Linked DNA regions of Homo sapiens. The gene in region 1 interacts genetically with each later gene. Each region holds a gene or a part of one and is shown in the gene's direction. Other genes may lie near its edges.

Region 1 (3,817 bases):
TGAAAATTTTAGAAAGTAAATCCTCTTATTTGCCAGTAGCATTTGTTTTCAGTTATCTGGTCTATCTTCTAGAATTACTGTTAGTCAAGAAAGCTTTTTTTTTTTTTTTTTTTTTTTTTCAAATTTCCTCCTTCAAGATGCATGTTATATCTTCTGAATGGTGACTTACCCTTTCATTTTCATGAAACTTAACATCTGTCATAGTAATAATTCATTGCCTGTCGATATATCTATTTGGCCACTGAAAGGAAGGAGAAATGAAAAAGAAACTGACTCATAGGCTGAACCAAGAATAGAAGCACCGTTTAATATTCCAGTCATGCTTCATTGACCTAGTGCTGAACAGAAGTGTGGCTCAATCAAAAGGTCAAACAGAGGGTAGTTTATATTTTTAATCAAAGCTGAAAATACGGGTACATTTTACTTTGTAGAATAAACAGATGGCTGAAATATTATTTGAAAATATAAATGTAATTACATGTTTCAGTTGACTTATACTTTAAGGGCTGATTGGTCTTCAGTTTTTATTGACTTCCAGTTGGCAGGGACACCTAATGCTTTAAGAAAGCCCTGAGCCCTCTGTCAATTCATTTTAGTCAACAAATCTTTATTGAGCATCTGCTATGTGTGAGGCACTATTCTAAGTCCTGGAAAGAGAGCAGTGGTTACAGACAAAAATACCTACTCTCATAGGGTTTATATCTAATAGAGAATATAGATTATAAAATAAATAAATAAAAGACAAGGTGCCAAGCATGGTGGCTCATGCCTGTAATCCCACTACTTTGGGAGGCCAAGGCGGTCTGATCATTTGAGCCTAAGAGTTCGAGACCAGCCTGGGCAACATGGCAAAAACCCATCTCTACAAAAATTAGCGAGGAGTGCTGGCATGCACCTGTAGTCCCAACTACTCATGGAGGCTAAGGTGGGAGGATCATTTGGGCCTGGGAGGTAGAGGCTGTGGTGAGCTGAGATCATGCCACTGCACTCCAGTCTGGGGGACAGAGTAAGACCCTGTTTCAAAAAAAAAAAAAAGGCATATTAGACAGTGATAAGTGTTAAGGAGAAAAAGCAAGGAAGGAGGCTATGAGATATCAAGGAAAAGGTGAAGTTTAAAACAAGGTTTCCATCCAGGGAAGAGATCACTGAGGAGTTGACTTTTGGGTATAGACATGAAAGAAGTAAGAAAGCCAATTATGCAGGCATCTATAGAGGGGGAAAACGTTCTGGGTAAAGGGAATGGTAATTGCAAAGGCCTGGAGGCATGAGTGTGTTGAGGAAGAACTAAGAGGCTGGTTTGGCTAGAGAAGAGTAAATGAGAGTAGCAGGAGATGAGGTCAGAGAAGTGGGGAAGGAGACGGCAGATCATTTAGATTCTTCTGAGCTATTTGTAAAATATTGGGGTTTTACTGTGTGTGAAGTGGGAAGCAATTGTGCAGGGTTCTGAGCAGAGAGCTTCGATGTGATCTGGCTTACATTTAAATAGGACCATTTTGGCTGCTGCATTGAGAATAGACATGTGGTGTTAAGGGCAGAAGCAAAGAAACCAGTTAGGAGGTTTCAGTGATCTGACAAGACAGTAGTATCTTGGATCAAGATGATAGCACTGTATATTCTGGATATATTGTGAAGAAAGAGCTCATAGTCTTTGGAGTGAGAGAAAGGGAAGAGATGACTCCAAGGGTTTGGGCCTGAATAATCAGAAGAATGGAGTTGTCATGAATAAGACAAGGATACAAAAGGAGGGGCTGTTTGGGGGCCATATCAAGAACTCGCTTTTGTTCATAAGAGCAAGAATATAATACTGGTTGAGTATCCCTAATCTGAAATGCTTGGGACCAGAAGTGTTTCAGTTTGAAGATTTTTTTTTGGATTTTGGAATTAGTGGCTGAACCTCCCAAATCTGGAAATCTGAAATCTGAAATGCTTTAATGAGCATTTCCTTTGAATGTCATGTCAGTACTCAAAAAGCTTTGGATTTTGGAACATATTGGATTTTGGATTTTCAGATCTGAGATGCTCAACCTATAGTGGCTACCAGGGGCTGAGGGGTGGGGAAGATGAGGAGCTCTTGTTTAATGGGTATAAAGTTTCAGTTACATGGGATAAATCAGTTCTAGAGATCTGCTGTACAATGTAATGCCTATAGTTGATGATATTGTATTGTGCACTTCAAAATTTGTTAAGAGAGTAGATTTCATATTAAGTTTTCTTAATACGCACACAAAACAAACAAAAGGACACAAGGAAAGTATGGGAGGTGTTGGACATGTCTCCCTCCTTGGTTGTTGTGATTGTATCATGGGTATTTGCATACATCCAAACCCAGCACATTAATTATGTGATGGGTTATTACATATTTATTGCACATTTAATTCATCACATTAAATATGTACAATTCTTTGTATATCAGTTATACTTTGATACAGCTGTAGGAGGAAAAGGTACTCCGTTTTGGGCACTCTGAGTGCGAGATACCTTCAGGTATTCAATTGACCTTCAAGTAAGTACAGTCTAGAGCTCATTGGATGCTTATCATATGGCAGGAGGCACTTTTCTAGTGTTTTTTTTTTCACATGTAATTTCATGTAATCCTCAGCATCGTCAGAAATAGGTACTATTATTATCCTTCTTAGAGGAGGAAACAGGCCCAGAGAGGTTAAACTACTATTGCATTTTTACACAGCTAAGAAGAGGTGGGGCTCGGGTTTGAACCTGAGCTGTCTGACACCAGAGCACACATGGACTGCTTCTGTTGCAAACCTGTTGATGTGTTGGGTGAGCTCCTATTGAATGCTCTTGAATGAAGTTTATCTTTTAAAAGTTCACATGTTCATTTACCAGGATTTTATAGAGGGTGTGTTTCTAGCTCTGGCAGTCACACGCCCATGAATATCAGAGGCTCACCACCTCCAGGTGTACCTTTGTGGCTATAGGAAGGGTGGGGTTATTGCAAGTACTCCATTGGGCCGAGGGTGCTCTGCCCCCTTGTACAGTCTTGTTCTATACTGATCCATCTTGAGCTCTTCCTATTATCCTTATGCAAGCAGACATTTTCCATAAGGCACCAGGTTAGAGCTGGGAAAAATGGATCACCCAAAAACTGTGTTAACTCTGTTGAGCAACAGATTTTGTCCCCTGCATCTCAGTGAGTAGCGGAGATAAGAGGGTAGGGGATAGAGTCTTGCATCTCTGGGCGTATGGAGACATTGCTGCCAGACAGGCTGTTGGATTGGATGTGGTGCATGAGCCTGAGGAGAGCCCATCTCCTGTCTCAATGCCAGCTGTCCCTAGGGGTGGGAAGGAGGTGCCCAGGCCGACTACACCCTCCAGAGCTCCGCTCCTTGAGCAGAGGTGGCAGACCCACACATCCATCATCCAGCCCTAGTCTGTTCAGGAGCTCCTTCTCTGCAGCCAGCTTGGCTCCCAGGAAGGAAGACCAGCAGAACACTTAAACTTAATAACCCAGTAATGCAGTAAGTCCTACTTTGGGACAAGAGGAGGGACTTTGCTCTAACTCAGAACGTATACCTCCTTGAACGTGCCAAAATTCCTTTTTCCTTTATGACTGTTTAGTAAGTTAAAGTCCTTCATCTTTGCAGGTTCTTGCATTTGTCCCTATACCGACTTTATCACAGCTTGGTAAATGTGCCTTCCCTCTATGTTTGTGAGATGGCAGCACTGGTTTCAGGAAATCTGCTTGCTGTTATCTTAGTGTTTATAACTAAGGGATCCAAGTCAACTTTGTTGATTAAATGGACCAGGATGCATGGTTAAATAGGAACCCCATAATGAAATATCTACGGTTGATGTTTCT
Region 2 (3,817 bases), on another chromosome or scaffold:
GGGTTGGGGCTTGTGGGAGGTGGGACGGGGCTGGGGGTCCATCCCCCTAGGGGGAATTTGTGGCCTACCCCGAACCCTGTTTGAGCTCCTTTCCTAACTGACTCCCCGTCCCTGCACCTGTCTCCCAGCAGGCCTTGCCTCTGCATGCTGCCCCTGCCAGGCTCTGGGGTCCCTGTGCTCCCTGCAGCTAGAAGGCTGGGATCAGGGGTCTTAACAAGCAGCCCTACTGTATGACCTTGGACAAGTCCAAGAACCTTCAGGTTCTTAACAATGTAAAGGGAGCAGTACTAAAAGCAGCTTCTTGGAATTGTGGGGATCCGATGAGTGAAGGCTTAAGCAGTGCATGGCACATAGTAGGCCCTGAACCAATGCCAGTTAGTGTTATTATTATCACCATTTAGCCAGATGCAGTGGCTCACGCCTATAATCTTATTGACTTTAGAGGCTGAGGTTGGAGGATTGCTTGAGACCAGGAGTTCAAGACCAGCCTGGGCAACATAGCAAGGCCCTGTTTGTTTTAGAGAAAACAAACAAATCACCATTTAGAGCACCTAACCAGTACCTGGCACGCGATAGGTTTAGCTCAACAAATGTTAGCAGCAATTACCCAAGGAGCCTGTGCTGGAAGTTTCTAGGATGTACCAGGCTATGGTTCCAAGTTCTGAGCATCTACCATGTGGTGGTCTGGAGTTGGTGAGAGACAGGATGGGGCTGACTAGGCCAGTGGGGAGCACCCCCCGCCATGGGGAACAAGCACCCTATCCTTGGCTTCCATGGAAGATAATTGATGCTGGGCACAGTGGCTCACGCCTGTAATCCCAGCACTTTGGGAGGCTGAGGCAGGGGGATCGCTTGAGTCTGGGAGTTCAAGACCAGCCTGGGCAACATTGTGAGACCCAAACTAAAAAAATTAGCTTGGCATGGTGGAGTGTGCCTGTCGTCCCAGCTACTCAGGAGGCTGAGGCTAAAGCTGGAGGATTGCTTGAGCCCAGGAGGTTGAGGCTGCAGTGAGCCATGATCATACCACTACACTCCAGCCTGGGCAACATAGTGAGGCCCTGTCTCAAAACAAACAAACAAAAAGAACCTGCTGAGGAAGCAGTGTTTCTGGCTGGGGGAGGACGGGCAGAGTGGCCATCTGGCCACAGATGGCGGTTTCTGTGCAAAACACATCAAGGCAGCCTTGGAAATGTGAGTGAAAGCACCTTCAAAGTTCTGGTCACAGCCTTGGGACTAAGCAAAGCCACCAAAAGTACATAAAAGACAATGACCATCACCCAGTGCCGGTGATGCTAGAAGGAAAGGGAATACGTTGTAGGGAAGGTTGTAAAGGGCTTTATCTTTTCCAGACTGGAGCCTGGCAGCTCGAAAACATCTTGCTGCCTTCATATGAGCTTTAAAACAAGCTGCAGAGAAACAACTCAAGAGGGAGAAATATATATATATATGTGTGTGTGTGTGTATGTGTGAGTGTGTGTGTGTGTGTGTATACATATATATATATATATATATATATATATATTTTTTTTTTTTTTTAAGATGGAGTCTCGTTCTGTCACCAGGCTGGAGTGCAGTGGTACAATCTCGGCTCACTGCAACCTCCGCCTCCTGGGTTCAAATGATTCTCCTGCGTCAGCCTCCCAAGCAGCTGGGACTATAGGCACATACCACCACGCCCAGCTAATTTTTGTATTTTTAGTAGAGGCTGGATTTCACCATGTTGGCCAGGATGGTTTTGATCTCCTGACCTCGTGATCTGCCTGCCTTAGCCTCCCAAAGTGTTGGGATTACAGGCGTGAGCCAGTTTGTTTTTAGAGACGGGGTCTTGCTCTGTCACCCAGGCTGGAATACCATGGCACAATCACAGCTCGCTGCAATGTTGAACTCCCGGGTTCAAGGGATCCTCCCACCTCAGCCTCCAGAGTAATGGAGACTACAGGCTCATGCCACCATGCCCAGCTATTTTTAAAACTTTGTAGAGATGGGGCCTTGCTACATTGCCCAGGCTGGTCTTGAACTCCTGGGCTCAAGTGATCTGCCTGCCTTTGCCTCCCAAAGTGCTGTTATTACAGGTGTGAGCCCCTGCGCCTAACCTTAGCACTGCCATTTTGACTGAAAACAGGTGCCCAGCAGCAGGGGCTACTCCCAGAATTGCCACTGCATCAGGCCCGTGGGTTGTTTTCAGCTGCCAGTGATAAGTATGTGCCCTGGGCCACCTCTCGGACAAGGTGTCTGAATTGGTGCCGACCAGCATCACATGTAATTGCCATCTCGCAGGTGCTGCTGAGGGTAATTCCGCACACCTGTAGCTCCGGGAAGAGCCTAGTGGGGAGGAGGAAACGTGGCTCTGAGGTTTATAGGGTCAGACGGTCAGTATGTTGGGAGCTGGCATGTGGAGGGGCACAGACAAGGGAAGAATGGGAGGTGGCATCAGAGCAAGTTTTGATGGAGGAATAGGAATTCACCAGGTGGAAAGGGCATTCCTGGTGGAGGGAACAGCCTGGCCTTCAATAGCTTGTGGTGTTCAGAAAGCAGGCAGGGAAAGGGAGGCCCAGGGAGACACCAGTTAGGGGATGGGGGTGGAGGCAGACGAGGGTGGAGGAAGCCATGGCTGGAGTCTGCACGGCCTCTGACTGGGGTCCCTGCTGTGGTCAGCCCTGTGCTGGGTGAGGCTGGGGTCACAGCTGGTTCAGGCCCTGACAGGAGGGGCCCCCAGCTGAGGCCCAGCCTCTAATTTGGCAGGGCAGGTGGATAGGTCTGGGGGGGTGGTGGTTAGGAAGCCTCCAGGAGGAGGCAGTGCCGGAGCTGAGCCTTAAAGAGCTTCGTGTTGTCCTCTCTGTCTTTGCACTCTGCACACACTCACTGAACTGCGACAAATGAGGATAGCTGGTCAGGGCAGAGGCAGGCCGGAGTTGGGGCTCACTGCTGTCCCCCACAGGCTGGGGCTGAAGGGCAGGCTCTGGGGCCGCAGAATGGGGTTTGTGTACCAGATTCTTCATATGGCAGCTGTGGGACTTTGGGCACGAGGCCTCCGTCTGAGCCTTAGTTTCCTCAAGAGGACCTGCGCCCAGGTGCACCTGGGGCTCCAGCCATGGGTGCGTCCCATTCCGGGAAGAGCTGGCACACACTTGTGCCCCCGGGGCAGCCATGAGTGCACAAAGGGCAGCCTGTGCCACTGCTGGATACACGACCAGCTGAGAACACGAGGACCGCCGACTCCAGTTAGGAGGATCAAGGAAGTGCCTGGTGGGAGCAGAACAGCAGGTGGGGTGCAGCCCAGCTCCCTGGAGGGATGGTGGGCACCCATCCTCACCCTGCTGCCTCCATTAGCAGGCCGAGAGGGTGTGCTCTGGAATCCCATGAGCACCTGTGCCACATCCTCCCCTGTGGCTGACCCTTCTTCACAGTTGGTGCAGCTTTGTGGTCTGTAGTGCAGGGATCAATTGGCAAATCCCTTTCCCACCCATTCCCTGGAGAATTGGGGTCCTTGGCTCAGATGACAGACCAACCTGAGTTGGAATCCCAGCTCCTTGGTGGCCGTCCTGGCCTCCACCCCCTCACTGCCTCCGCTCCTCCTATCCTGCCCACGCCCACTGCAGGGCCTTTGCACACACTGTTTCTTCTGCCCTCCCTTCCGGCCCACTCCCTCATATCATTCAGTCCTCCTTTCAGATGTCACCTCCTAAGATGGGCTGCCCTGACCACCTCATCTATAATGGCCCCAGTGCCTGGCACAGGATTGGCACACAGTAGATATTGTCAGAGATGGATCTGGGTTCTGTGGACAAGGCTGTGGGGGCAGGTGAAGAGCTCCCTC

Evidence for each region.
Region 2: changes in ENDOD1 (region 1) and SREBF1 together harm fitness more than expected from each alone (negative genetic interaction), as found in Homo sapiens cells (one large-scale study listed by BioGRID).

Annotation. Positions count from the first base shown.
Region 1 is NC_000011.10:95,096,134-95,099,950, forward strand, and holds part of ENDOD1 (endonuclease domain-containing 1 protein precursor), read left to right. Parts: intron 1-3,817. UniProt on the Homo sapiens protein: May act as a DNase and a RNase. Plays a role in the modulation of innate immune signaling through the cGAS-STING pathway by interacting with RNF26.
Region 2 is NC_000017.11:17,826,911-17,830,727, reverse strand, and holds part of SREBF1 (sterol regulatory element-binding protein 1), read left to right. Parts: intron 1-3,817.